Linked DNA regions of Homo sapiens: region 1 is linked to region 2. Evidence: fine-mapped expression QTL. A gene starts in region 2. The other region holds a variant in brackets. All regions are shown on one strand. Distances are between the middles of the regions. Region 1 overlaps SLC44A3-AS1 (SLC44A3 antisense RNA 1). Region 2 holds the start of F3 (coagulation factor III, tissue factor).

What was found. PIP is the estimated chance that this variant, and not a neighbour inherited with it, causes the effect.
Region 1: its variant is fine-mapped to the expression of F3 in lung (TOPMed, PIP 0.92).

The regions. Positions count from the first base shown.
Region 1 is chr1:94,775,011-94,790,253 of GRCh38, reverse strand. The region is part of intron 1 of SLC44A3-AS1 (SLC44A3 antisense RNA 1); the gene reads left to right. Among named protein-coding and RNA genes, the nearest start is that of MIR378G, 37 kb to the right of the region's middle. RefSeq lists an enhancer at 6,330-7,092. The variant T/C (reference allele first, on the strand shown) is at 6,810.
Region 2 is chr1:94,535,013-94,550,255 of GRCh38, reverse strand. F3 (coagulation factor III, tissue factor) reads left to right here and starts at 8,497. Exons shown (of 6, transcript NM_001993.5): 1 at 8,497-8,719; 2 at 9,888-9,999; 3 at 14,092-14,291. The coding sequence starts at 8,620. It overlaps MIR12133 (microRNA 12133), which reads right to left and starts at 6,554; the gene lies at 6,477-6,554. It overlaps LOC124904223 (a long non-coding RNA gene), which reads right to left and starts at 8,282. Exons shown (of 2, transcript XR_007066234.1): 1 at 3,384-8,282. RefSeq lists a silencer at 8,298-8,577.

The DNA of each region.
Region 1 (15,243 bases), 240 kb before region 2:
GTCTTTTTTTTTTTTTCTTTTTTTGAGACAGAGTCTCACTCTGTTGCCCAGGCTGGAGTGCAGTGGTGGGGCAATTTCGGCTCACCACAACCTCCACCTCCCAGGTTAAAGCAATTCTCATGTTTCAGCCTCCCAAGTAGCTGGGACTACAGGTGCCTGCCACCACACCTGGCTAATTTTTATATTTTTAGTAGAGACAGGGTTTCACCATATTGGCCAGGCTGGTCTCAAACTCCTGACCTCAGGTAATCCACCCACCTCGGCCTCCTAAAATGCTGACATTTACAGGCATGAGCCACTGTGCCTGACCAGAGTTGTCTTTTTAAATTGATAAATAGATGTATCTATTTTGGGGGTATATGAGATATTTGGATATCCTTCACCATTATCATTTATCTTTTCTTGACGCTACGAACATTCAGTTTATTCTCTTCTAGCTATTTTGAAATGTACAATAGATGATTGCTAGCTATATTCACCCTGCTGTTCTATCGAACATTAAGTCTTATTTCTTCTATCTAACTCTGTATTTGTACCCATTAACCAAGCTCTCTTCATTCCTCCCTCCCCTCCATCCTTTCCAGACTCTGGTAACCACCAGTCTACTCTTTGTCTTTGTGAGTGCCACCTTTTTAGCTACCACATATGAGTGAGAATATGTGATATTTGCCTTTCTATGTGTGGCTTATTTCTCTTAACATAATGATCTCCAGTTCCATCCATGTTGCTGTAGATGACAGGATTTCATTCTTTTTCAATGGCCAAATAATATTCCATTGTGTATATACACCACATTTGATCCATAGACCTATTGATGGGCACTTAGGTTGATTCCGTATCTCGGCTGTTTTGAATAGTGCTGCAATAAACATGGGAGTGCAGATATCTCTTTGATACATTCATTTCCTTTCTTTTGGATATGTAGTCAGTAGTGGGATTTCTAGATCACATGGTAGTTCTATTTTTAGTTTTTTGAGGCACCTCCATACTGTTTTCCATAGTGGCTGCACTAATTTACATTCCCACCAGCAGTGTATGAGGGTTCCTTCCCCTTTCTCTACATCCTCACTAGCATCTTTTTAATAAATGCCATTTTAACTGGGATGAGATGATATCTCATTGTAGTTTTGATTTGCATTTCTCTGATAATTAGTGATGGTGAGCATTTTTTCATATACCTGTTTGCCACTTGTATGCCATCTTTTGAGAAATGTCTATTAGATCTTTTGCTTGTTTCAAAATTTGATTTTTTAAAAACAATTGCATTGCATTCCTTATGTATTCTAGTTATTCACCCTTTATCAGACGGATAGTTCGCAAGTATTTTCTCCTATTCGTGGGTTGTCTCTTCACTTTGTTGATTGTTTCTTTTGCTGTGCAAAAAGGTTTTTAGCTTGATGTCATCCCATTTGTCTATTTTTGCTTTTATTGCCTGTGCTTTTCAGGTCTTACACAAAATAATCTGCCCAGACCAATATCCTGAAGCATTTCCCTAATGTTTTCTTCTAGTAGTTTTGTAGTTTCACGTCTTAGATTTAAATCTTTAATCCCTTTTGACTTTATTTTTGTATATAGGAGAGATAGGAGTCTAATTTCATTCTTCATGTTTGTCTTATATTATTAAGTTGTAAGAGTTCTGCATACAAGTCTTTTATCAGAAATGTGATTTGCAAATATTTTCTCCCTGATGGTGGCTTCTGTTTTAATTTTCTTAGTGATGTCTTTTGAAAAGTAAACACTTAATTTTGATAAATTCCAGTGTAATTTTTTTTCTTTTATGGATCTTGCTTTGTGTCACATCTAACAAGTGTTTGCTTAACCCAAAGTCACAAAGATTCTCTGTTTTTTTTTTCTAGAAGTTTTATAGACTTAGGACTTACATTTTAACCTATGACCTATTTTGAGTTATACATGGTAAGAGATGAGGGTCTAAGATTTTTTTTGTTTTTTTTGTATATGAATATATAATTGTTCCAGCACCATTTATTGAAAAGACTCTCTTTTCCCTCATTGAATTGCTTTGTCACCTTTGTCAAAATCAATTGACTGTAAGTATGAAGATTTATTTCTGGACTCTATTCTGTCTGTTTGATCAATTATGTCTGTCCATACACAAATAGCATACTGTCTTGATTACTATAGATTTATAGTAAATTTTGTTTAAGTCCTCCAACTTTGTTCTTTTTGTTCAGTTTTTTTTTTTTTGGTTGTTCGCAGTCCTTTGAATTTTCACATAAATTTTACAATCAGTTTGTTAATTTCTACAAAAGCAGGGTCTCTGGATCATATGGTAAGAGTATGTTTAGTTTGGTAAGAAACTGTCAAACTGACTTCCAAAGTGGTTATACTATTTTGCAATCTTAACAGAAGTGAATGAGACTATTTGGGTAATAGTCTTTTATCAGATACATCTGTTTCAAATATTTTCTCCAAGTCTGTGGCTTGTGTTTTAATTCTCCTAAAGGGTCTTTTGAGTTTTTAATTTTGATGAAGTCCAGCCTATTAATTTTTTTCATGGGTTATGACTTTGCTGTCATATCTAAAAAGTAATTGCCAAACCCAAGATTATCTAGATTTTCTCCTATGTTATTTTCTAGGAGTTTTATAGTTTCATGCTTTAAATTCAGGTTTATGAGCTGTTTTGAGTTAATTTTTGTGTTTAGATTTTTATATTTGGCACATGGATGTCCATTTATTCCAGCACTATCATTGAAAAGATCATCTTTTTTCCAGTTTATTGCCTTTGCACCTTTGTAAAAAATCAGTTGACAATATTAATGTGGGTTTACTTCTGGTCTTTGTATTCTATTCCATTTATCTGTCTATTCCTTCACTATGCCACATTGTCTTGACTACTATAGCTTTATAGTAAGTATTGAAGTCAGGTAGTATTAGTCGTCTGTCTTTTTTCTTCTCCTTCAATATTTTGTTGGTTATTCTGGGTCTTTTGCTTCTCCATGTAAACTTTACAGTTAATTTGTTGATATTCACAAGATAACTTGCTGGGATTTTGACTTGTATTGCATTGAATCTATAGGTCAAGCTGGGAAGAGCTGACATCTTCACAATATTGAGTCTTTCTATCAATACACATGAAATATCTATTTATTTAGTTCTTCTTTGATTTCTTTCATCAGAATTTTTTAGTTTCCTTCATATAGATATTGCACATTTAAAACAAAACTGATACCTAAGTATTTCATTTTTGGAAATGCTAATGTAGATAATATTGTGTTTTAAAGTTCAAATTTCACTTATTCATTGCTGGTATATAGAAAAGCAATTGGCTTTTATATGTTGACCTTGTATACTGCAAACTTGCTATAATTGCTGATTAATTCCAGGAATATTTTTGTTGATTGTTTTGGATTTTCTACATAGGCAATCATGGTTATCTGTGAACAAGCACGGATTTATTTATTCCTTCTTAGTCTTTATGCATTTTATTTCCTTAAAAAATCACATTATGTTAGGACTTCCAGTGCAATGTTGAAAAGGAGTGGTGAGAAGAGACATTCTTGCCTTTTACCTGAACTTAGTGGGAAAGCTTGTAGTTTCTCACCATTGGGTATTATATTGTAGATTTTTTTGTAGATATGCTTTATCAACTTGAGGAAGTTTTCCTCTATTTCTAGTTTGCTGAGTGTTTTCTTAATCATAAAGGAGTGTTGGAAGGCCCTTTTTGTTAGATTTATTTCCTACCATATGACACACGAATGTCTTACTAATTAGTATAATTGCTACTTTTTGCTCACTAGGTGGAATCAGCATTCATCAATGTAATAAACCAGTGGTCTTATGGAAAGATGATCAAGTCCCTGCAGACTATAATATAACATTTAGGTTTGAAGGGTTGATATACCCCAAGGTAAGGCAGTTAAGGTGTATTGCTGGCTTTGCCAACAGAAGGCAAATCAATTCTGGTAGTCTTTATTAATAGGTATTGAGAAAAAGGCATTTGTCAGACCAGTCGCTGCATACCAGTAATAGGGCATGTGTTAATTTGCTCAAGCAATGAAGCCTTTTCTGAAAGACCAGCTGAAATTCAAGTCACCACCTGATTAAGCTTACTATAATCCACTGCCATTCTCCAGTATCTATCTGTCTTCTGTACAGGCCAAATAGGCAAGTTGAATGAGGATGTGGTGGGAATCACCACGTGTGCATCCTTCCAACCTTTGATAGTGGCACCATTCTCTAGAATCCCTCCCATGAATGCAGTATTGCTTTCGGTTTACTGTTTTCCTAGGTAAAGACTATTCTAGTGGCTTACACTTGGTCTTTCTTATTGTAATGGCCCTCACTCCACAAGTCGGAGAACAAGCATGGGGATCCTGCCAGTTGCTGAATATGTCTATTCCAATTATTTACTCTGGAACTGGAGAAATGACCACTGAATGCGTTTGGAGACCCACTGGACTCACTGTGACTTGAGCTAAAACTACACTAATTACCTGAGTTTCAGAAGTTCCCACTCTAGGACGGCATGGTAGCTCATGCCTGTAATCCCAGCACTTTGGGAGGGTGAAGGGAGTGAATTTCTCGAGCCCAGGAGTTCAAGACCAGCCTGGGCAACATGGTGAAACCGGGTCTCTACTAAAAATACAAAAAAATTAGCCGGATGTAGTGGCATGAGCCTGTAGTCCCAACTACTCTGGAGGCTGAGGTGGGAAAATTACCTCAGCCAGGGGACGTCGAGGCTGCAGTGAGCCAAAATCATGCCACTGCACTCCAGCCTTGGCAACCAGAGTGAGACCATATGTCTAAATAAATAAATAAATAAAATTTATATTCTGACTGATAGACCACAGTGATGGTTTGGGTCTCCTAAGATTAGTGTCACTAATCCAGTAAGTCAGTGTCCAATAATCACCTAAAAGTCTGATTATTTTGTTTTCCCTAATGCACAGTCACCCTGGCAGAAGGCCATAGGTCCTTTGGGGAGGGCTGAGAAAAAGATTAATGGCATAAACTTTTGGCAGTGTAATGGGTACTTCTTCAAGGAGCTCAAACCTCCCCTTCTTTCAAGGCATTTGGGATCTGTAAACTGGCTCAAGTCTAGGAATTGATTGCAGAAACTGCGACTCTGTTTTTATGATTTAAATTAGACTAAGTTCGTATTGCCTGGAACTCTTCTGCTTAAACAGTGCAAATAAGAATGTAGTAGACCAGGTGTTTTAGCCTGTTCTTGCATTGCTATAAAGGAATACCTGAGACTGGGTAATTTATAAGAAAAGAGGTTTAATTGACTCACAGTTCTGCAGGTTGTACAGGAAGCATGGCAGCATCTGCTACTGGGGAGGCCTCAGGGAGCTTTTACTCATATGGCAGAAGGCAAAGCGGGAGCAGGCACTTAACATGGCAAAGGCAGGAGCAAGAGATATGAGGAGGTGACACACAGTTTTAAATGACCAGATCTCACAAGAACTTACTATTGTGAGGACAATACCATGGAGATGACACTAAACCATTCATGAGAAATCCTCCCGCCATGATCCAGTCACCTCCTACCATGCCCCACCTCCAACATTGGGGATTATATTTTGACATGAGATTTGGGTTCATCCAAACCATATTACCAGGCCAGCCAATGGCCTGTTTCTGTCTCCAATGGACAGAAACTATCTGTTGGCACAGGTGGCTGGGTGGTAATTCTCTCTTCCCCTCAGGGCCAAGCTCAGTTCCAGGAATCCATAACCACTTAGCGGCTCCTCTCTAAAACCTTGCCACCTTCTTTCCAGTTTCTAGGAATCTCCATTTCCTACCTTGCTGCTCCTTAAAGACATTCTTCCTGCCTTGGCCTCTGACTTCCGTTGCTCTAGAATTGATGTCTGCTGTCTGCTTTCCACTTTGTCAGAATCCCCTTACAAGAAATCACAAAACTTTGTTTCCTGATTGAAATAAGAGGTCAGGGAAAAGACAGGGAGTATACACACAGTTGGAAATTCCAGCCTAGGCTGGGCGCGGTGGCTCACGCCTGTAATCCCAGCATTCTGGGAGGCCAACGCGGGCGAATCAAGAGGTCAGGAGATTGAGACCATCCTGGCTAACACAGTGAAACCCCGTCTCTACTAAAAAGTACAAAAAAATTAGCCGGGCGTGGTGGCAGGCTCCTGTAGTCCCAGCTACTCGAGAGGCTGAGGCAGGACAATGGCATGAACCCGGGAGGCGGAGCTTGTAGTGAGCTGAGATCACACCACCGCACTCCAGCCTGGGTAACTGAGCGAGACTCTGTCTCAAGAAAAAAAAAAAGAAAAAGAAAATTCCAGCCTATTACCCTGTTATAGTGATCAGATACCAAAGTTGCTGAAGACACAGAGAAAGACTTCCCTAGGGAACTTAAATGTTCTCTAAACATATAAGGCATGATAGATGTTCCCCATAACTGGATGATATTCCTCCTGTCCTATCCTCCTGCCCTAGCCACAGGAGTGAAGGCTTGCGTTTAGGAAGTATGTTATTACTGCAGCCTGTATGACTTACTTTCTGGTAATAAATCTTGTGTGTGAATTGTGGGGACGGCCAGCATCCAAAGTAAATAGCGACTGTTGTGGTGGAGGCTGGCTGGCCAGCCTGGCTGGCTGCGCTTCAGCTCCTTGGCTGCTCCTACAGGGATTGCTGCCGTGGAGCTGACTGTGGCTTCCCCAGGGCTCTGCTGAAAGGGCCTTCCAGCTCTGGGGAGGCTCTGCCCTCTTTTCTCCCTCAGCTAGGACCTTGGCAACTCTGCTCTTCCTCCTGGCAATCAGGCATCTGGAATGGCTGAAGGGTGAATTCCAAGCAGCAGAAAGAGTGCCAGAGTCCTGGGCACT[T/C]CCTTCTTTGGAATCTCTCTATCAGCCCAGCACACCCCAGGTTGTGTTTTCTGAGCAGAACAAGGTGATTCTCTGCAATGTACTAGAGGAGAGGAAGGACCAGGATGCACTGCATGCAGCTGTCTCAACTCACCTTGCTCCTTTCTTCCTCCATAACTTTGCTTTGGACATTTTCTCTGCCTGGAATGCCTTACCTTATTCTCTCTCTTTCTCCTGGTGAAATCCCTACTTATCCTCTAAGGCTGAATGAAAACACTGTCTCTTCTGGGAAGCCACCACCCCTCTCCCTCAAACCCTTTTCTCCCACAACTTTTTGTTCCTAGCCCTGTTGTAATACTGACCATATTGTATTATAGTGAGTAGTCTGCCTGAGTGAGTGCAATAACTTTTTTTTTTTTCTCTAACTCTTTGGCCCTAGGATCTAGGATGGTGCCTGGCACATATCAATGATAATGATGATTATAATAACAATTATTCATTATATGCTTAGCAGTTGCAAGGCACAGTGCTAAGAGCTCCGTAACATTTAATCTCCACCACAATTCTAAGGGTAGCTATTAGTGTTATCCTAGTTTCTGGATGAAGTGGTGGGTTTAGGGAGGTTCTGCAACTTGCTTAGGGTCCCATATCTTTTAAAGGGTGGAGCTAAGTTTTGAACCCAGGTTTGTGCAGCAAAAAGTCAGTGTTTTAACCTTTTTTGGTTAGGTTTTGACAGGTTTTTTGATAGGTTTTGATACCTATCACTGTTTTGATAGGTATTTTTTGAATGCTTGATTGAATGAATGATTCTAGAGGTGCCCAAGTACTCCCTCCATTCCCATCTGAGTGCAGCATCTAGGGCGGGGGCTGTTTTATTCCTCAGGCACTGGACTGTATCATGGTACCTTTGGCCCAGGCTCCTCACTTGATGGTGTCTTGCTTTTCCTTTTGGTGGGCAAGGAAGATCAAAAGGCTCTAATGATGGGATAAGCTCCTGATCTGCTTATAAATATACTGATCCTAATGTCAAGCCAGCATCCCTTTCATGGTCACAGCTCATGGTCTATCATCAAACTCTGTGACCGGTGGTATGAACAGGCTGGTTTGCATTTTCCCCAGAGCATTAATACCCATAATCTCTCCTTTGTCTGCCTTCCCTCTGTGTTTCTACAGTGTAGGGCTTGGCAGGGTTGGGGCCAGGGAATGTGTGGGGAGCTATGTGTGCTCCTTTCTCTCTTTCCCTATCACAGACAAGAGAGGGAAACTGGCATTATGCACTGATGTCACTGAAGGACAGAAACAAATTGCAAAAGTATATGCCTGCAAGGAAGGAAGCAAGTAGATGCCACTAATGCTATTTTTCTGTTTTTTCCTAGCACCTGGCATATAATTGATGCTCAATTAATATTTATTTATTGAAAAAAATTACACCACATTCACAAATGCCTTACATTTCTGTAGCACCTTATGAACTCTTTACAGCTCTGTGGTAGCTATTGTTTCTACTGATTCTTATATACATTTTAAGGAGGAGGATATTAAAGCTCAGAAGGGTTTGATGACTTGGTGAAGATCACCAAACTTATCAGAGGCAATGTCAAGGACAAAGCCAACATCTGTGACTTTGAATTCTGAAGGAATGAAGAATGTGCAATCTCAAAATATGCCACATTGGTATATTTATTATTTTGAGTTACAAACATTGAAGAAATTGTAGTTTCAGAAAGGGCCAGTTGTCCTGTCTCCCCCTGCATGCAGCAAGCCATAAAGCTTCCTCTTGGAGGGGGACCTCCATGTACCAGGGCAAGAAAATCGTCCTTATTACCAGAGACTGGGAAGTTAAGGCTGCAGTGGACCTAAATAAATATTACCGAAGTAACCCCTGTCGTCCACTAGTTTTATGTCCCCTCATATAGCTCCTATGACTCCCTTAAAATTTACTACCCCTAGCCAGATCCCCTTTTTCTTGTCATTTCTTCTCAAATTCATTGTTCTTTGTCTAAAAAGTATAAAGACATCTTGCTTTGGGCATTTCTTTGGATTTCACTCTCTTGTGAAGATCCCACGGGCACAGTAGTTGCATCTGACAGCACTGACTTATTCACACCCTGAGAATGACCCTATACGGCAGATGCACCTGCCAGCAATGACTTAAGAAATGAGGGTTGCCACATGGAGGTTGTCGGGGGGAGCGTGCTAAGTGAAGGTGCTATCTAAACTACATGCTTTTTTCAAGCAGTTACAGTTTCCTGTTCAGTCTTCCACCACTGGACTATTCCTGTATGTAATTTCTCCCTAATAAAACCCCGTGTCTCGTTTGCTGGCTCTGGGTCTCTTGTTTGGCCTCTCAGACATGGTGCCATTCCTATTGGAGTCAATAGGGATCTGGCATGACACCTACGTTCCTTAAAACCAATACAATTAGTATGCTTTTATCTTGTTAATCTGCCTGGTGTCCATTTGGTTTCTAGTTCTAGCCAAAAATACCACCTAAGAACTTAAGGGTGTTGGGGTTGCTCGCTGACTCTCCTACAATCCTGTGCTCATAAAACAAGGAAACAGAAATCTCAGATATTCAATACCTAAATGTTTATCTTAAAGCAAATTCTACTTATATGGTTTCATTCTTTGTTTGGTAACCTATCCCATTTCACTTTATTTTTTTGGATCTCTTTTCTCTCATTTTCTGTATTAAAACCATTCACAGTAACTTGTATAGCCCTTCATTTGGAAGAGAACGTGGACTTTTTCTTTTCCAAATCATTTTAAATCAACAGCTCCTCAGTGAGTGCCTCCTAAATTAAGATTAAGGCATGACCCCTGCCTTCATGGTGCTTACTTTACGTGGCTGTAGGGACAGACAGGAACCCCAGGGCATATGAGATTGCAGATACTCCCAACAGAGATTTTGATGAGCACATCAGAGCATCAGTGGCTTTCGAGCTAGTGTAAGGATGAGTAGAAATTATTTTTAGACACTCCTTAGGTAGAGATGGGGAAAATCATTTTAGTTTAAAAGAATAGCAGTGGCAAAGGTGGGGAGGCATGACCTGTTTAGGGCTGGATGAGTACTCCTGGGATGGGGTACAAGCTGGTATCATATTGTGGAGGCTCTTGGATGCCCTAAGATGTTGCATTTTTTTCAGTAGGCAGTAAGGAGCCATCAGTAGTTTGTAAGGAGGGCAATGTGATCTCAGCTACAGAGGAGAATGACCAATGAGCAGCCATATCAGTGACCTAGGAGAGGCTCAGGGATTCATCCCTTATCTCCCAATTCCCTACTGAGGGTGAGGCACTGTGCAGATGAGCGGCACAGAGCCAGGCCTGCAGGCACTGGCAATCAGGCGAGCAGGCCATGCATAGCTGTAAGGCACCATCATAAATGTCTCTACCTAGTTCAGCAAGTGCACAAAGAAAGTGGGGTATAGGGTCCCTGGGGAAGGTGGGCATCAGGAGAGCTTTCTAGTGGAGATGATGCTTGAGCTGAGATTATTTACAGGGCGAGGAAGATGTTGAAAGGGAGAGAGGAGGGAGAAGGCATTTGCAGGAACAAAGCATGGAGGCATCAGCAGCGTGACCAGTTAGCCGGACTTGCTGTGTGTGGGTGTGTGTGTGTGTGTGTGTGTGTGTGTTTAATACAATTGTTTTGCTTATTTAAGTAATATTTGTTTGCTGAAGAAAATGTGTCAAATATAGAAAAACTAAAAGAATAAATCTATAATCCCACTACTTGGAGATAATCATTTAAAAAATTAGGTGAATATCTTTCCATTTTTATGTGAGTGTGTATGTGTTTGAATAAGAATAAATGTGTGTGTGTATACATATATATAAATGTATCAATAAGTAGAACATATATGTATGTGTTAATACAGCTTCATCTTCTCTCTCTTTGTATTGAATGTCCTGCTGCATCAGCTATAGGGATAAAATAAGGTTACATTTCTTTAATATTCAAACAATACTGACTTGAACATCCACCAGCCCAGCCTGACAGGAAGTGTAGTCTTCCCTGGAGGTTCTCAAGTAATCTCTAAGAATGTGTAAGAAATTGCTACTTATTCCTCAACCTGTCCTAATAGTGGCTGCTTCCATCTGCCTACTGATGATATGTCTAAGATTTAAGTAGGAAAGGGAAATATGGGTAGATTAGTCTTTCCAGCTAGAGTGAAAACACCTCATGGGCCAGGAACCATGTCTTTCTTGTCCACTGCTGTACCCCCAGTGCTTCAGATAAATACCCACCACATAGTAGACATTCAATAATACACTAAATGAATGAATGGATTCAAACCTCCACTTATTCAGGCAATTAACATTTACTGAAGATTTTTGATGTGCTGAGTTCTGTGCTGGGGATTAGAAGTGTACATGCAAACAAAATAAAACTTTCATCTTTGATGGGCATGAAGATAAGCATTTAAAAAAACAAACAAACTCAGCTTCCATGGGAGTCAGTGAGATTCTTAGCATCTGAGGTATTCAAACAGACACCAAAGACTACTGACCAAGACTGTAGAAGGGATTCTTGCTTGGGAGAAATGCTGGACTTAAATGACCATTAATGACCCCTCCAAATGTAAATTCCTATGATTGAATGAATTTTAGCTAATTGTTCCTAACTTATTAGTCATAACCAAACAGTTCACAGAAGGACTCCAGAGTAAATACAATTACAAATGAAAAACAAATGTTCTGATGGGATCCAAATATTTGTTGATAACAAGTGAGATTTCTTGAGAAGCCTGCAGAATGTTGTTCTCAATAGGAGACATAATTTTTAAATAGTAGAAATTAGAGAAGTAATACATTTCAGAATGTGTTTAAACATATTTTCTTTAATTCAATCCATTTATTATATTCAAAACTCGTATTCACAAGCAAAAATAACTAAGAACTGATTAAGACAACTAAAACAAGCTTTTGATAGGTCTTTTTCGAGGAAGCCCAAAGGTCTCAAGTTTGATCGCTGTTTGGAAAATATGAGCGCAACACTTTAAGACAAAAATTTCCATATGTTGGTCTTATTAGAATTCAAAACTCATTCATCTGTTCCTTCATTCAAGAAATACATAGTGGGGAGATAAAAGAAAGACATAGTGAAAATCCACTAAGTGTAATATACTGTAGACTTTGCAATATGAATAATTCTAAAAGGAAAATGAGATCATCTATCATACATTTAAACAGTCTTTTAAAAAATTCATTTTATTACAAAGTAATAATCATCCATTAAATAAAAAACTTAAAAAATGGCAATAGTAAAAAGAATACCTATAATTATACCATTTAATAAATATCTACTATTTATGTTTTTGTGATTTCCTTTTAGGGTTTCTATGCATGTAATTTTTATATCATTGTAATACTGCTGTGGAAACTATTTTGAGCTTTAAAATCCTAATCATTGAAGAGGCTGGTGGAAATAGTTTAGTGGAACTGAAACCTGATTCTCTAGAGCTTTGATATATGTGCCTTGGTTTTCCTTCATGTACCTTAAGCATTACTCTTTTGGGTTGAAAATAAATCATATAGGTTTTGTTTAAACAACACCAAGCATATTTAAAAAATGAGAATTTGGTAAGAATAATGGCCAGATTAAAAATTAGATTACAGATTAGCAGCTGGATACCTAAATGATCAGAACATACAGTTGTGGCCATTAGCCTTACTAGCACACCTAGTCCATACTATCACTAAATAACTATTTGGCCCCTGTTTGTTTAATGACCAACTCCCCTGTTAGACTCTAAACACTGTCTAGTTCACAGCAATATCTCTAGTGCATGGTTTATTGCCTGCTGCAGGCTTGGTTCTTAGTAGACATAACTGGAGTAAGTGAATGAATGACTCATTTACTGGGAAGGGTAGTTTGGGGGTAGTTCATCAATCAATCCATCTATCCATCCATCCATCCATCCATCCATCCATCCATCCATCCACCCATCCATCCACACACCCACCCACTTACCCACCTACCCAACCATCCATCCATCCATCCATCCATCCATCCATCCATCCATCCATCTATCCATCCATCCATCCACTTCTTCATTCATCTATCACCAGATATCTTAGGGAATATTTGCCATGTGGTAAGCACTGTGCCTTGCACCAAAGGCACAGAGTAAAGCAGTGATGGCACTGCTCTGGATGGAAAAGCTCACTCTCTGGGTGGGGAAAGAGTCAGACCCTCCATTGAGGTCTTCAAATACCTCTTCTGCAGATCTCTTGCCTGGCATTTACAGTCCTAGAACTGTAAAAACTGGTCCTTTTATTAGGGCATTGTTTTTGTAAATCACAAATATGCTGCAGGGTGTGCTTTTCAGTCATTAACAACTTAGAGTGAGCTAGTTTCTCAGGTTTAGGAGGGGAGGGAGAGAAAGCAGGCCATATGGTTATGGAAAGGACACTCTCAAGTAATTGGTTTCTCCCTTCTCTATAGTAGGAGGCCCTGGGTCATGGGAAGGCAGCAATGTAGCAGAAACATGCCCAATTGGCTTGAGTCTGTCACCACCTAGCTGTGCCATGACAGGCAGCTTGGCCAACTCTGAGCCTCAGGCTCCTTACCTGCCTGGAAGGTGATGCAGAACAAATGCTGCTGTAGTCATGAAAGGGTCCTGTGAATCACATGACTACATGCTCTTCCCCTTGCCAAGGAAGGGGTGAGTTTTTCAGACCTGACAGCCATGCACACACCTGCTGCTCTGCAGATGGCCTCTTCTGTGCTGCTTTCTTTTTAGAGGAAGCCCTTCAAGCTTCTTGTATCAGGTGCCACACAGACATTAGTTGCATCTTCATTGTCCTCTCCTGTGAAGGCAGAACCTGGTGCTGAGTCCCCAGCATTTCCAGGTAGGAGGGAGGCTGTGCAGGAGAGAAGCCAGACCTGGGGAAAGAGTCAGGGCATGAACCAAACTCTCCTTTATTGGCACAAGCTCCCCTAGGCCAGCCTTCCTGGGGCTCCACAGCTCCAGGGTGCATCACGGAGCTGCACCCCAATGCCAGCTTGTCCTGGCCCTCGGGAGCACAAACCTCCTGGGAAGGGCCCTCAGAGGACTGCCAGGTTCTGTCCTATCCAGCAGGGCCTTCTTCCAGGCACATCTTTGTCACGTGAGCTTGAGGACAAGGAAACTCTTTCCCTGACCTGGAGGTGAGTGCATCAAAACCAGGGCTACATTTGGGGCATCCCCAATGTCAATCACATTCTCTTTGTAATTCTCACAGCACCTCATGGTGAGGTAGACTGGTGTGAAAGAGAAACATAAAGCAAAATGTCTATCTCCTCTCGGGTCTCTGAGAAGGAAACTCTCTTACCTCAGGGAAGCGGGAGGGAGAAAGGAGCGGTGACCTTCCTATGCTGTGTTCCCAAGGAAAGCATGCATCTCAGTCCATTAGTTTTACCCTTTAGCAGCGCTACTGTCTTTGAAAAAATGGCATGTACATATATATATATATATGTGTGTGTGTGTGTGTGTGCATATGTGTGTGTGTGTGTGCATATGTATGTGTGTGTATATATATGTGCGTGTGTGTATATATATAGTCATATATATGTATATATGTATGTGTGTGTATATATATGTGCGTGTGTGTGTATATATATATATAATGACAAATGAGAGTTGGGATTGTTGAGAAATGAGTTCTGATTGTTGAATATAAATCTGAACTCAAGGAAATAACCACTATTAAAAGAACTTTAAACAAATAAAATTTAGTAGGGTTTAATTGAGCAAAGAACAATTCATGAATTGGGCATCCCTAGAATCAGGACAGATATAGTGAGACTCCAGGGGCTGCCACACAGCTGGACATTTACAGACAGAAAAAGGGAAGTCAAATACAGAAAGTGGAAGAAGGGGAAAGTGAGGTACAGCACTAGCCCTATGGTTAAAGCTGGAGTTTGGCTTATTTGAACCTGGTTTGAACGTGGGTTGTCTGTGGTTGACCTGGGTTCAGCTGCTGTGATTGGCTGACATCGGGCCGCTTGTTACAAGAGTAAGTTACAGTCTGATTACACATCAAGTTAGGTTACAGCTCACTATGTACAGAGAAACCTTTAGGCCAAACTTAAGATATGTATGGAGGCAGCATTAGGCCAAGCTTAATTCAATTTAACACTGCTCATTTCTGTAAAAGCTTTTTACAGAAAAGAAAAGCTTTCAATGTTAATTTTACCCAGTATTTTGAAAAGAGAAAATGCTTGATCATTGATCTTCACATTAAGATTAGCAGCAAGTAGGCAAAGTGTTATCTCCACTTTTGACAAGGAGGAGACAGGGGCTGCATGAAAGCCATAGGACCTCCCCATGGGAGCATCTCAATCCTCTGCTTCCAGCTCAGTGTGAGGGCCGTGGTAAACTGCCTCAGGTCTGAGCACAGCACAGTCCCTGATATACGGTGTGTTCTTCATAAATGCCAGCCAACCAGGCCCTTCCCATTCATGTAACCATGT
Region 2 (15,243 bases):
CTGATGGGAGGGAGGAAAAGGGCACAAGGTGATTTTTCCTGGGATGAGCCTCAGTCGTGGGTTCTGCAGACGCCGACATTTTTCTAGGTGACACCCAGGCACTGGTATCACATAACCTGGTACTAGAGGCAGGCTCTGAAGCTGGTACCAGGCAACATAGATTACATTTGGGGAAGTGACTGACCACGGAGGGGTCAGGTCGTAGTGGAGACCACCCTACATCCCATAGGAGGGAGCTCATCTGCAGAGGCTCCCTACGGGGCTCTCAAGTAGGGAGCAATCACTGCACAAATATTCCAGGGAAATAGAAGTGACTGCACGACAAGTTCCAACTTGAGCCTGGATGTTTGTATCACGATGATAAATAGGACATTAATTCATAGGTGAGAAAAGGGCTGTGGAATGGCTGATAGATAAGTGAAAGTGATTATGGACTAATCTAACTCATCAGCTCAATGATGCCATAAGCAAGAAGTAGGTCAGAAAGGGCTTTCCTAATATTTATGAGTTGTAATCATGACCCATATTTCTTAATAAATAATAAGATGCTGAGGAGCATTTATCTCATGTTGTCAGGGTAAATAAGCCATTTTCAGAGATAGCTTCCTTTTTCCTGTTTTGGAGAGGAAAGCAATCTAGATGTGGATGAAATGAGTTGGAAACAAAGCAAAAGAAAGATCCCTTTGTTCTTGACTTGGGCCAGGTTTTGGCTTAGTTTTCTTTCAGAAAGTCCCCATGTTTTGAAGCCAGGCGCATCACAGAGGGTCAACTTCACCAGGTAGGGAAGACAGGGGAAAAAGGAAAAAGGGACTTGAATCAGTGCAGTGGTTTTCACTGAGCTTTCATAGGAAATGTGCATGTGTTAGTGTCATGATTGAGGAGAGGCCACATAGCAACATAGGTTGTGGATGTGCACCTTGCAGCTCCACTATTTGTGTTCAAATCCCAGCTTAGCCATTTCCCAGCTGTGCCACTTTGGGCAAATTATTTAACCTCTCTGGGCTTCAGTTAGCCTGTCTGTAAAATGTATAGTTCCACCTACCTCTCAGAAGGTTGTTGTGAGCATTCAGTTAATACCTATAGGATGCTAGAACAATATTTTTTGGCCATTTTCACTGGCAGCAAGTAATAGACTGGTATTGAGATCACTGGATATTCCCAAATGATCATTTGCTTTTCCACTGACATCATGACATCAGCTAAGAAATAAAAGACAGAACAAAGCCATTTTGCAGATTTCCTGAATCCTCGGAAAGGTTTTGTCATAACCATAACCAAGACATAAACTGTCAGAACCATGTCAGGGCTATGTCTTCGTTATCAGACTTTTTTGTTTTTTTTTTTTTGGCAAGTGCTTGATTATAGCATCTAAGTATTAGAAGTACTGGCCTTTGGTGGAGAACCAAGACAGACACATTCCTGCCTGCATGATGCTAGGGTAGAGCAGAAGACACAGACATCGTGTGTAACCTCAATATAGGGTGATGAAAACTTTTGTGAAAGGAAAAATCAATGTGGCAAACTTCATGTTATCTTATTTTAAGAAATTGCCACGGCCACCCCGATTTTCAGTAATCACCACCCTGATCAGTCAGCAGCCAGCGACATCAAGACAAGACCCTTCACCACCAAAAAAAGTACAACTCTCTGACGGCTCAGATGATTCTTAGTATTTTTTTTAGCAATAAAGTATTGTTAAATTAAGGTCTGTACTTTTTTAGACATAATGCTATTATATACTTTATAGACTATGATGTAGTATAAACGTAACTTTTATATGTGCTAGGAAACCAAAAAGTTTGTGTGACTTGCTTTCTTGTGATACTTGGTTTATTGCCATGGTCTGGAATTGAATCTTCATTATCTCCAGAGTCTGCCTGTAACTGGTTTTCTGCTCACTCTTAGAGGCCATGACCTCCTCTTTCTTACTAAAACTCTCCTCCTCCTCTCTGCTGTTCCTCTGTGGTCCAGCTTGTTATGGTCTGATGTTGGTTTCCTCCTAAAATTCATACATTGGAACCTAATGCCCAATGTGATCGTATTAAGAGGTGGGGCCTTTTAGGCAGTGATGCATGAGGCCCTGCTCTCATGCATGGGATTTGTGCCCTTATAAAGGAAGTTAAATGGAGCTGCCTTGTCCCTTCTGCCATGGAGATACAACAACAAGTTTCCGGCTACGAATCAAAGAGTGAGCCCTTGCCAGACACCGAATCTTCCAGTGCCTTCATCTTGGACTTCCCAGCTGCCAGAACTGTTATTTCTGTTACTTATAAATTACCCAGTCTAAGGTATTTTGTTAGAGCAGACTAAATGGACTAAGCCACAGCTTAAATAATACTTTCCTCTAGGGAACCTTCTCTCATCACCCCAGTGAGAACCAAACTCTCTCTGTAGAGGTCCTGAACATCTTCTGTATCTTTAAGCAAAGCTTTCTGAATACGGAGGACCTACTGTGTGCCAGGCACTGTTGCTAGCACTGTAGCTACCTGTAAAGATAGAGCAGTCTCTTCCAGCACAGGGCTTTCAATCTACTAGCAAGAGATGTGACACTATATCCCACATCATTCGTACCACTTTCCCCTGTGGAAGCTTAAGTATTTGTCTCGTCTTCCTGACTAGTTACGAGATATTTTACCAAAGGGACTCACAGTTCCTGGTATACTGTCCTGTGCATAGTAATCCCTTAATAAGTATTGATTAACCCATATAAGGCAGGATCTTGGTTAACAAATCCATTGTGATTGGAGATGAAAAGTAAACACTATTCTTAAAATAAGGTGCAGGTCTAAGATCAATCGCTCTAAATTGGTCATTTTAATAGCTGTCTCCATAGTATATGTCCTGTATCTTAGTCCATTCAGGCTGCCATAACAAAAAATACCATAGTCCAACTGGCTTAAACAAACATAAATTTATTTCTCACAGTTCTGGAGGCTGGGAAGTCCAAGATCAAGTTTCGAGCAGGTTTGGTTCAGCTTCCCGAACCGTCTTCTTGCTATGTCCTCACATGGCAGAAAGGAAGATGAAGCTCTTTTATAAGGGCACTAACCCCATTCACAAAGGCTCCATCCTCGACCAGATCATCTACTTATGGCTCCGCCTCCTAACACCATCACATTGGAGGTGAGGATTTCAACATACGGATTTGCTGGGTGGGTGTGAGGGGGCACAAACAATGACGCTAAAGCAACCTGTTATTCCCCTTATGGCAAGGAATAGAAGTATTTGATTTAGAACTGTGAGAATAGAAGTAGTTGATTTAGAACTGTGAGATGCTAAAATGTTGTAACATAAAGGGTAATGATGGTTTAGGATGACAATTACAACCAGTCAAACAAACATGTTTCCAGTGTGAAAAATAACTTTGCTTACTAAGGAATTACCTCTGTCTTGAGAGTTCTGCTTCAATGTGGAGTTGGTATAATAGGATGGAGCATCACCATCAAAGGCAGCAAGGGATTGGAAGGGTTACAGGCTCAAAATTTGGAGCATCTGTTAACTAGGCTATAAAATGTCAACAAACAAACATAAAAATAACAATGAAATATCTTGCACACATGCTTTTAAGCTGATTATTTTACTTGTTTTTTTCCTTACGTGAGGAATCTCCTCCTACTTGGTTATCTTTTCTGCTAGACTTGCCTTTTTATAAAGCTGTCTTTCTTGTTGAGCTTCATATATTTTTTCCATATTCAAAACTTTGAGAGTTCATCAATACGTTCAAACTGATAGAGAATGTATATTTTAAACCTGTAAGTCATTTTCTGAGTTAAAGATACCTATTTGATGAACTGATCATGACACACCTAAATCTTTTTGGGGGGAGGACAGAATGAAATTTGTAAATAAACAACACTGTTAAGATTGTTTTATATCCAATTCAAATGCTGACAGAAAATCATTCAAACCATAAAATCTGCCGGGCATGGTGGTTCACACCTGTAATCCCGGCACTTTGGGGGGCAGAGGCAGGCGGATCACCTGAGGTCGGGAGTTTGAGACCAGCCTGACCAACATAGATAAACCTGTATGTACTAAAAATACAAAATTAGCTGGGCATGGTGGCACATGCCTGTAATCCCAGTTACTCAGGAGGCTGAGGCAGGAGAATTGCTTTGAACCTGGGAGGTGGAGTTGCAGTGAGCCGAGATTGTGCCATTGCACTCCAGCCTGGGGCAACAAGAGCGAAACTCTGTCTCAAAAAACAAACAAACAAACATAAAATCTGGACATAAGTAGGAATGATGATATGTTTAACAGGAAAGGGACTTCTTTGTTTTACTCTGTACATCCAGAGTCTAGCAAAGAACCCAGTATCTGGTGGACATTCAAGCATTTGTTGAATGAATGAATTTCTGTTCATCAAATTTAGTACATATGTCAGGTATAAAGAGTTACAGAAATGAGGAATTAAGAGATGCTTAAGTAAATGATACCATATACAAAATTTTAAATCACATAAATATTATATTAATAAGAACATAGGTTAAGGGTTTTCATTTTAAATGACTTTTTGTTACTAAAATAATACCCACAATTCATATTTATTATTTATCTATTTTGTCACCATTGTATGTAGATAATAAAATAATATTTACTGTTCATCAAAATGAAAGTTGAAAGGTAGTTTGATAAGCTTTACGTTTATAAAAATAGATGTCTGCTGAAAATACCAATCCCAGTCTAAGACTTGAATTGGAAGGTTTTTCTCTAAAGTTACATTTTTCAGAATACTGGTGCTATGTGATAACTCATTTAGCAAAGCTTCTTGTAAGCTGTTCTAGACAGTTGATAGAAGTATTTTGAATGACCAGGATAATAGATTTTATCATACTGACTTTCAACTGTTTAATTTTGGTCTAAATGAACTGTTGGACTAGTATATTGCTATTTTCACAAAATGCATAATCATGACTGCCAATTTTTCCATGACTAACTATACCCAGCCAGATGTTTCTTAGGTTCTGCTGAGTCACTTTTTTCCTTTTCCTCCAGAACTCTGTGTTCCTACTAACTCCTAATTCCCTCTGGCCTTTTCTCATACTTTGCCTTTTACCTGAATTTTGGGTAATGGTTTCATTGCTCTTTTTACCATTTCATATGCATAAAATAAGTTTCTCTGAATTATTCTCAATTTTACTTGCTATCATGTATCTTAACCTATCTCTTTCCTGGGAAATAAACATTTTGAGGAATTTGTTTTAAAAAGTTATTCAGCCTCTGTATGCAAGGAAAACTATCAACAACCTCATCGCATGATGAAGTATATTCTGAATCATCGTAGAATCCAGTCTTTTAAAAAAATGCTAGCTAGTTTCCAAACTTCTGTATCTGGTTTCTGCTTCTCAGCTATCTCTCCTCCTGGTGAGATTTTCTGGTGGTGCAGAGATAGCTAATCACTGGTTAGACTGCTAGAACTTGCGGTCGAGTGGTGCCTTTCCAGTCATGATGGATTTGTATTTTCTTACCAATCTCAGCATCATGAAACACTCACTGCCTGGCCCCTAGAAAGAGTTTTCAGTGACAGATTTCATCTCTTGAACACCAGTGAAATATTTGGTTGCACTCATAGTTTTATAAAGTATTCATTGACTCAAAAGGTATTAAGTGCCTATTATGTGCTGATAATTGTGGAAAGGGTTGAGAGAGGAAAAAAACAGACAAAAAACCCAATCCAACAGGAAAGATTAACAGGTAAACACACAAGTGAGATTAAGTGAAGTTCTCAATGAAAATGAGTCGGTAAAATTGGCAGCAAGTACTATAAAAGTACAGTGGAAGGGCTGAAACATCTCCGCAGTTATTTTCAGACTTCTCATCAACCACATTTCATCACTGGTTATGCAAAGGGAATTCAAACTCTTCTACGTGTCTCCTTGTCTGTCTATTTCAAGGACTAACCATCAGGATATTTCTGCCTAAGAACAATGAGTTCCCCAAACTGCAAAGTATTTTCTATACTTTGTGTGCAGTTTTTGTGCAGTTTTGCACTTTTCTGCACTTTGTGTACATGCAGAACATTTTTGAGTGCTTATGGATGGATTAATTAATCATTCATTTGATGGATTTACCACCCAGTCTTACTTTCCTTCATTGGGAGTAGGAGAAAGCCTGGTGATGGAAGGAAAGCCCCCGGGGTCAGAAGACCAGATCTGCACTGTGTGGTTAGGCAAGCCAGTTTACTCAGATCAGCTGGCCACAGGGTTCTCATCCATAAAAGAATGTCTGTGAGGTTCTCCCATCCTCTGACATCCTAAAATCCAATGAGAAAGGGACTGGTCAAGCCAGAGAGATTATTGTTATAGTTTAGTAACTTTTTGAACTTCTCAGAGCCTCCAAGATAGATCATGGAGGAGGGAACTGTTAACTGCTAAGCTTGACTTTACTGACAGGAGTAAAAAAAATTGTGTTAAGGTTAGGGAATAATTTTAACAGTCAATTTGTTCTTGTGAACAAATTTCAACAGTGAAATTTTAGATATGTACTTTTTAATGGTGCCAAGCAGCAGTTATTATAGATCAACTGCTGTTTGGCACCATTAAAAAGTACACTTCGCACCGTCAAAAAGTAGATCTGGCCACAATTAGATCAGTCAGGGAAAAACACTTCGCAATGAAATATTATTTACCACGTTTTCTTCCTCCCTCTTCTTGAAAATAGTAATGATTTTAGCATTTTTAAATCTTGAAGAATGTCATTCCGTACTGACTAAAAAGCCTGTGCAAACACCCAACATCTTCTCTTTCCTGTCTATTTTAATGGATATACAAAATAAATATTCATCTAATTTATCAATATTTAAGGCACATTGTGTATCACAATCCAATGGTAAACATTTTTCTTATCAAATGGCTGATCTTGACATTGTTTAAAGCCCTATATGATTTCAGAAAAGTCAGTGACTCCAAGTGGAATTGCAACAATTTCTTGGGTCTTGTAACAAACCTGAAGTGTAACTATTTCTCTTCAGCTACCTTCAATCCCAGAGAGCAAAGAATCACATCCCAGGTGGAGCTGAAGATCTCTTAGGGAAAATGACTCAGGCTAGAGCCTGCATAAAAAGAGGATTGCATGGCTTAGTTTTGCAAACATAAATTTTGTGGGTTTCAGAGCTGGCAGAGAGCTCAAAGAGGAAATCATCAAGGGCAACTTTCTGCTTCGAGGAAGGAAAGTCTACAAGGGCTAAACCTGGATGTGCTATTTCAGTTCAGGCAAAGGAGGAAAATTAAAATTTTGCACAGTTTTATTCTGTTAAAACAAGTGGTTCAGTAAGCTAAACGAGATATGTATATAGTATGCATTAAAATGCAAGACTGACTTCCCTGGGAAAACGTGGGAAAGAAGGAGAGAGGAAACAAACAATTCTTACACTAAGAATTCTCCAGTCGTGTCTTGCAGGCAATATAGAGTAATAATAATAAAAATGACAGGAGATACTTTGACAGGATGGCTTAAAATGCCACTCAATAGATGAAGAGTTGTTCTCATGCTTGGCAAGTTTACAGCAAAGCCCAGAAGGAGAAGCCAGAAAATAATTTAGAAAAACCAAAGCTTAAAACTAGTGGCACACAACTCTGGTTACATTTTTCATTTTCATTTTTGGTTCCTCTGCATTTCGGTGGAACTCAGTCCCACAGATGTCTTCTTCAATGTGGGAACCATCCTTTCTGGAACCACAGAGCTGCAGATGTCACGCTGGAATTCTCCCAGAGGCAAACTGCCAGATGTGAGGCTGCTCTTCCTCAGTCACTATCTCTGGTCGTACCGGGCGATGCCTGAGCCAACTGACCCTCAGACCTGTGAGCCGAGCCGGTCACACCGTGGCTGACACCGGCATTCCCACCGCCTTTCTCCTGTGCGACCCGCTAAGGGCCCCGCGAGGTGGGCAGGCCAGGTATTCTTGACCTTCGTGGGGTAGAAGAAGCCACCGTGGCTGGGAGAGGGCCCTGCTCACAGCCACACGTTTACTTCGCTGCAGGTCCCGAGCTTCTGCCCCAGGTGGGCAAAGCATCCGGGAAATGCCCTCCGCTGCCCGAGGGGAGCCCAGAGCCCGTGCTTTCTATTAAATGTTGTAAATGCCGCCTCTCCCACTTTATCACCAAATGGAAGGGAAGAATTCTTCCAAGGCGCCCTCCCTTTCCTGCCATAGACCTGCAACCCACCTAAGCTGCACGTCGGAGTCGCGGGCCTGGGTGAATCCGGGGGCCTTGGGGGACCCGGGCAACTAGACCCGCCTGCGTCCTCCAGGGCAGCTCCGCGCTCGGTGGCGCGGTTGAATCACTGGGGTGAGTCATCCCTTGCAGGGTCCCGGAGTTTCCTACCGGGAGGAGGCGGGGCAGGGGTGTGGACTCGCCGGGGGCCGCCCACCGCGACGGCAAGTGACCCGGGCCGGGGGCGGGGAGTCGGGAGGAGCGGCGGGGGCGGGCGCCGGGGGCGGGCAGAGGCGCGGGAGAGCGCGCCGCCGGCCCTTTATAGCGCGCGGGGCACCGGCTCCCCAAGACTGCGAGCTCCCCGCACCCCCTCGCACTCCCTCTGGCCGGCCCAGGGCGCCTTCAGCCCAACCTCCCCAGCCCCACGGGCGCCACGGAACCCGCTCGATCTCGCCGCCAACTGGTAGACATGGAGACCCCTGCCTGGCCCCGGGTCCCGCGCCCCGAGACCGCCGTCGCTCGGACGCTCCTGCTCGGCTGGGTCTTCGCCCAGGTGGCCGGCGCTTCAGGTGAGTGGCACCAGCCCCTGGAAGCCCGGGGCGCGCCACACGCAGGAGGGAGGCGACAGTCCTGGCTGGCAGCGGGCTCGCCCTGGTTCCCCGGGGCGCCCATGTTGTCCCCCGCGCCTACGGGACTCGGCTGCGCTCACCCAGCCCGGCTTGAATGAACCGAGTCCGTCGGGCGCCGGCGGGAGTTGCAGGGAGGGAGTTGGCGCCCCAGACCCCGCTGCCCCTTCCGCTGGAGAGTTTTGCTCGGGGTGTCCGAGTAATTGGACTGTTGTTGCATAAGCGGACTTTTAGCTCCCGCTTTAACTCTGGGGAAAGGGCTTCCCAGTGAGTTGCGACCTTCAATATGATAGGACTTGTGCCTGCGTCTGCACGTGTTGGCGTGCAGAGGTTTGGATATTATCTTTCATTATATGTGCATCTTCCCTTAATAAAGAGCGTCCCTGGTCTTTTCCTGGCCATCTTTGTTCTAGGTTTGGGTAGAGGCAATCCAAAAGGGCTGGATTGCTGCTTAGATTGGAGCAGGTACAACGTTGTGCATGCCCCGTATTTCTACGAGGTGTTCGGGACGGCGTAGAGACTGGGACCTGCTGCGTACTGGCAAAGCAGACCTTCATAAGAAATAATCCTGATCCAATACAGCCGACGGTGTGACAGGCCACACGTCCCCGTGGGTCTCTGTGGAAGTTTCAGTGTAGCGACATTTCAGATAAAAGTGGAAAAAGTGAAGTTTGGCTTTTTTCATTTGTATGCAGTCCTAACTCTTGTCACACGTGTGGGATTTATCTTTTTCCATAACTTACTGAAAACCCTTCCTGGCGGGCTGAACCTGACTCTTCCTGAGCTGAGTCCTGGACTGGCACACTGATGGCTCTGGGCTCTTCCCGGTCAAGTTATAACAAGGCTTTGCCCATGAATAATTTCAAACGAAAATGTCAAGATCCTTGCCGGTGTCCTGGGATTACAAGGTGAATCTTGTCATGAAGAAATTCTAGGTCTAGAAAAAATTTGAAGATTCTTTTTCTCTTGATAATTCACTAATGAAGCTTTTGTGGTTGAAAAATAAAAAGTGAGGTTTATGGTGATGTCAGGTGGGAAGGTGTTTTATACATCAATACATTCGAGTGCTCTGAAGTGCATGTAATAATAGCTGTTTCTCTGTTGTTTAAAGGCACTACAAATACTGTGGCAGCATATAATTTAACTTGGAAATCAACTAATTTCAAGACAATTTTGGAGTGGGAACCCAAACCCGTCAATCAAGTCTACACTGTTCAAATAAGGTAAGCTGGGTACAGAAAAAGAAAATTAAGGTCTTTGATGTTTCTACTGTCCTATGCTGAACAAGAATGTCTTTAAAGCTGATTACTGGATGAAATTATTTAACAGATGACGAAGAAGAAGGGATTCTTGGCAATTCGCTGGCCGGTGTCATACTCTATTAGGCCTGCAACATTTCCAGACCTTAAACTGATAGAACATTTTAATTGTTTTAATTGTTTTTGGAAATGATGGGAGAGTTCCTAAGTGGAGTATAAACTGTGGAGAGATGAACCATCTTGAGTAGGCACTGAAGTGTGCTTTGGGTCATGATAGATTAATTAATCTCATCTAAACATTGATGTCTTTTTCTGTTGCTGTCTAGACTGTGAACAATGTCTAACACCTTAGGGAAGAGGTGGGGAGGAATCCCAATGTATACATTGCCCTTAAGCAGTGTTTGATTCATTCATCTTTGGACTCCATGAATCGAAATCTGGTAGAATACATGATCTTAGTGGAGGAGGCCAAATGCGTGACTCACTGAGCCTGGCAGAGCAGAAATACTCTGCTGTCTGCACCCTCTGGGTCTGGTGTGGCTCTGCTTCTTGGTGCCTCAACTCTGACTGGCAGCTGTCCCCAGGAGGCGATAATTCAGCATGTTCAATCTAAAGGTTATGACTTCCTTGATGGTTTTCACCATATTCTTGGCAAGTTTTTGGTTTTTGAAATGTTCTAGGAGGCTTGGTAGAGATCTTATGAAATAGAGAATAGCTGCTGTGGAAATTATTTTAATGCTAATTACATAAAAGTACAAAAGTAGCACTAGCTAAAACAAAAGGTATTTTGCTGTTCTGTTTTGTTTTAGCTTGTGCCAGGCCTTTTACAGCATTAGGAATGCAACTTCTAGATAACGATGCATCTTTTAAGTGAATGTTCTTGTTTTTCAAAATGAACTTCATGACAGTAGTTGCCAAACCAGCAAGGAGAACTTGCATGCATACGTGCATGCATGTGTGGATATGTATGGGGGTGGGGGGAGAGAAAGATGAAGGAATTTCATAACATGAAATAATGATTACAGTTCTGGTCAAACTTGTCAATTCAGATTTCACCAATTGAGAATTAGTAAGTAATTTCTCTGATACAGGCCTGAAGTTTACCTTAGTAAACACTTTACTTCCATATGGTAAAAATTAGATTTTGGGAGGAATGCTTACCTCCTAAATATATTCAATCTAATATTTGAGGGACACATGGGAATATATTTATGATTCATCTGCTTTTTAAACATAAGCCTTTGTTAACTGTAAGTTCTTGAACTTTATAAGGCTGCTGTTATTTAAATGAGCACAGCTCCTGATCTGCAAACAGCAGAGCGCAGGGCTACAGCTTGGGGGATGCCAGCCGACTCAGGGTGGTCCTATGGACTGAACAATCTCTTGCTGCTGTACTGGAGGGCCTGGGAGCTTTTCCATCAGCCTCGGCCTGAGGTGTGCACTCTTCTCCTGCCCACCCCAGGAATAAATGAGATTCCTGGTTAAAAAGGACCAGAGCAGTCATTTTACAGTTGAGGAAACTGTTGCTCTGAGAAGTGAGGGATTTATTCATGACTACACTGATGGTGAGTGCCCATGTCAGGTCTGGAACCAAAGTCTACCCAGTATCCACACACCACCATCCCTCAGGTGGCTCTGCCACAGTCTGATGGGAGGCTCCAAAGCGGGAGGAAGAAGGAAAGTCTTGCCCACTGCATCTCCTCAGTTGGCCTTCCTCTCTGCCTGTTTTCCCTCCCTACAGTTAGCATCTTAAGCAGCTGCCCCTCTTCCCTCCCGACTGCTCTCACTACTGCAGCCTGGCTCCAGCCGCAGGACACTACTGCTGTGCAGAAGCCCCTACTTGGAACTCCAACTGCATTTTTCACCTTTGCTAACAGTTTTCAGTGGTGGTTGGGAAATGTTATTGGCTTAAGCCTTAGCACAAACCGTCACCGGTGATATTCATTCCATGGAAATGTTCTGAATTCTAAAGCTGAATTTACAAAGCTTCTGGAAAACAACCTGCAACCAAATTAGTGACTGAATTTTTTAGTTAACTCAAAATTCCAAATCAGAGGGTTTTGCAATGCCTGGAGGAACCTTGGAGGCTTTTAAAGTGTTAATGCTATTAATGGCATTCAGAGGGATTTTCTACAGAATTGTCCCTTCATTACCTGTTTATACAGTTTTACTACTTACCAGGGTACTGTATAAATCCTTGTGCTAAATTTTGCTATAGAGTATGTGGTCCCTGCTGTGAGCTGGGAGGAACCAAATACTGTATCTCTATGTTACATAGAAAGCCCTAGGAGACTTTCTCCTGTTATCTGAACAACTATTTGCTGTACTGATAAAAAGGAAACAGCATAGTCTCATTCACTTTTTGAAATGGAAATGATAAAATAAAACACATTTTGGTCATTCGGGAACAAAATACCCTCTCTACTTTTATCACATAAAATTAAATAAATAGAAACCAAAATATTTCAGTATCAATCTTAGTTTGTGCACTTTAGGATAAAGAATGTGTTTACCCAAATCCTTTTGGCCTGGTTACTTAGTTCAGATTTTGAAAGAAAATATATTTGTGGCTTTTATGTGTGAATTTAGACAATGGAATCCATGTGGTGCCTCGTTTTCCCTGAGATTATGTATTAATTCAACCTGTAAATGCAAACCATCTAATAGTCAGCGAGACCCTATAGCCCTGCTGCTTAATGGGGGCACACAAGGGCATGCAGCCCTCGTACCAGGCAGACTGTGTTCATATTAACAGCATCGTGGAGAAACTCATGCTGGGGGACAGGGGAGGGAGATGTAAATGCTCAGCAGGGAGATCTGGAGATTCCTGGAGCAGGTGGAGTTGGGACCTGGCCTTGAACGATGGGTCTGGCTCTGGCAGTCAGTAATGCCAAAGGGAAGAGCAGCATAACTGTCACTTTCCATGGGACAGAAGTGTGTGAATCAAGTTGCAGTGACGCTTCACCTATTTATTATTTTGGTCATTTAGAAGAATTTCATTGTCAGTAGAAGTCCTTTAAATCATTTCCCCTTCAGTGACGTCTCACAAAAGAAAGATCTGTCTTTAGCTTTTTAGTCTCAGACTTTATTAGACAGATACTACCTGTACTCTTATTCTGTAATCTTTGTTGGGATGGATTCACATCTTGCAAAGGAAGGGAGGCATGTAGTATAATGGGGCAAACAGACCCAGCTCTGCCACTCGTTAGATATGTGACCTTCTGCAAGTTGCTTAGTGCCTGTGAGCTTCAGTGTCCTCATGGATAAGAAAGATCCAACACCTTCTTGGAAGGATTATATCAAATGAAGTAACATGAGTAAAGGGTCCAGCAGAATACCTGGCATATAGTGGAGTCAATGAATGATTAATAATATTATTAATAGTGGTCATGAGAGAATATATGTATAACATGTTATTATGTAGACTCACTATATAGACTCTATTCTACATAGAATATAGAACATTATATAACAAACAACTATAATAAGTAGACTATAGTAAACAACCTCACTTTGTCTCAGTTGCCTCATCTTGATGGAAAACTGCTCTTTCTCTCCTGTTACCCTGACAGAGAGCGTCTACATTCTAAAAGAAAGATATTTAACAAAATGGTTGAGTACAGATCCAAGAGTCAAATAGCTGTCTGGTTCAAAGTCCAGCTGTGTGATTTTGAGCTAGTCACCCAATCTCACTTTGTCTCAGTAGCCTTATTTGTAAAAACAAGGCAAATTACAGAGCCATCCCCTGGGTTGCTATGAGGACTCAAACATGCATCCCAAGTGCTCGGTGTTGCTAGGTATGATGGCTCACACCTGTACATTCAGCACTTTGGGAGGCCGAAGCAGAAGGATCAGCCTGGGCAACATAGCAGGACCCCATCTCTACAAAACAATGTTTAAAAAAAAGCAAAGTGCTCAGCACAGTGACTGCATCATTAGGATTGATTGTAGGGCTCCTGATGTTAGCACAGAACACCACAGCCAGGAAGCAGTCTATCTTGTTGGGTGCAAATTGTAACATTCCATTTATGTTTCTTCCTTCTTTTCTTTCTTTAGCACTAAGTCAGGAGATTGGAAAAGCAAATGCTTTTACACAACAGACACAGAGTGTGACCTCACCGACGAGATTGTGAAGGATGTGAAGCAGACGTACTTGGCACGGGTCTTCTCCTACCCGGCAGGGAATGTGGAGAGCACCGGTTCTGCTGGGGAGCCTCTGTATGAGAACTCCCCAGAGTTCACACCTTACCTGGAGAGTAAGTGGCTTGGGCTGTAATACCGTTCATTCTTGTTAGAAACGTCTGAACATTCTCGTGATCTTGTGCCTTTAGGGGCTACAAAATTAAAAATATTTATTCTTTTTTTCTCAGAAACTGGTATGTATCACAGCCCTCTTCACACATTCCAGATGTGGTAGGAGGTTCACAGAATGTGAACTTTGGAGCTGATGACAGTGTCATCAAGTAACTTTCTCCCCCAGTCTGTCCCCAGACCCTGTTACTGTCCTCAGTAACCGGCTGAATGTGTGTTGGGAGAGGGCGGGCCAGGGAAGCGGGTAGGGATAGGAAATCCACCAAGGCCGGGGTTTTAGCTTTTCCCTATATATATATCATGTATCCTGATTTTTCTGTCCCGTTATCACACTAAAAATCCCAGTTGAGGATTTTTCCCAAACGGTCATAAATCAATGAGGAAAGTCCATGGTTTCCCTCTGAGCCCATAATTAGCCTAATTATGCTGACCTTTTCTAATCAGTTGGCCATGATTTGAGTTCCGTGATGTGCCAGCACCTGCCCAGCCATCTGCCTGTCACCCTCGTTCTGGTTTTGGAAAGGTGGAATACTTTCCTCCTCAGCCTTTGCCCCTGTAAGCTGGCCCTAGGAGCCAGTAAAAGAATGAAGAGAATTCCTGTCAAGTAGGAGATTTATTCTTTTGCCGCAACTGTGGCTCTGAGCTAGGCAATTTAGATAAATGCATGTAGCACATTGAGTAGAGTGAAATTAGCTTCTCTTGTAAGGCCAGCTGGTTAGAATGAAGGTGTTGTGTGAGTGTTAGGCCCAGCGAGAGAGAACAGTTTCTCAAGGTAGGAATGGTGAAAAGAAGGGGTGGACGGACAACCAACCAACCATCCTCCTCTGGTATCTACTTTGAGGGTTGAAATAGGGGGCCTGACCCCAGGTGAATGTGGCTGCCTTCCCAGAGCCCCCA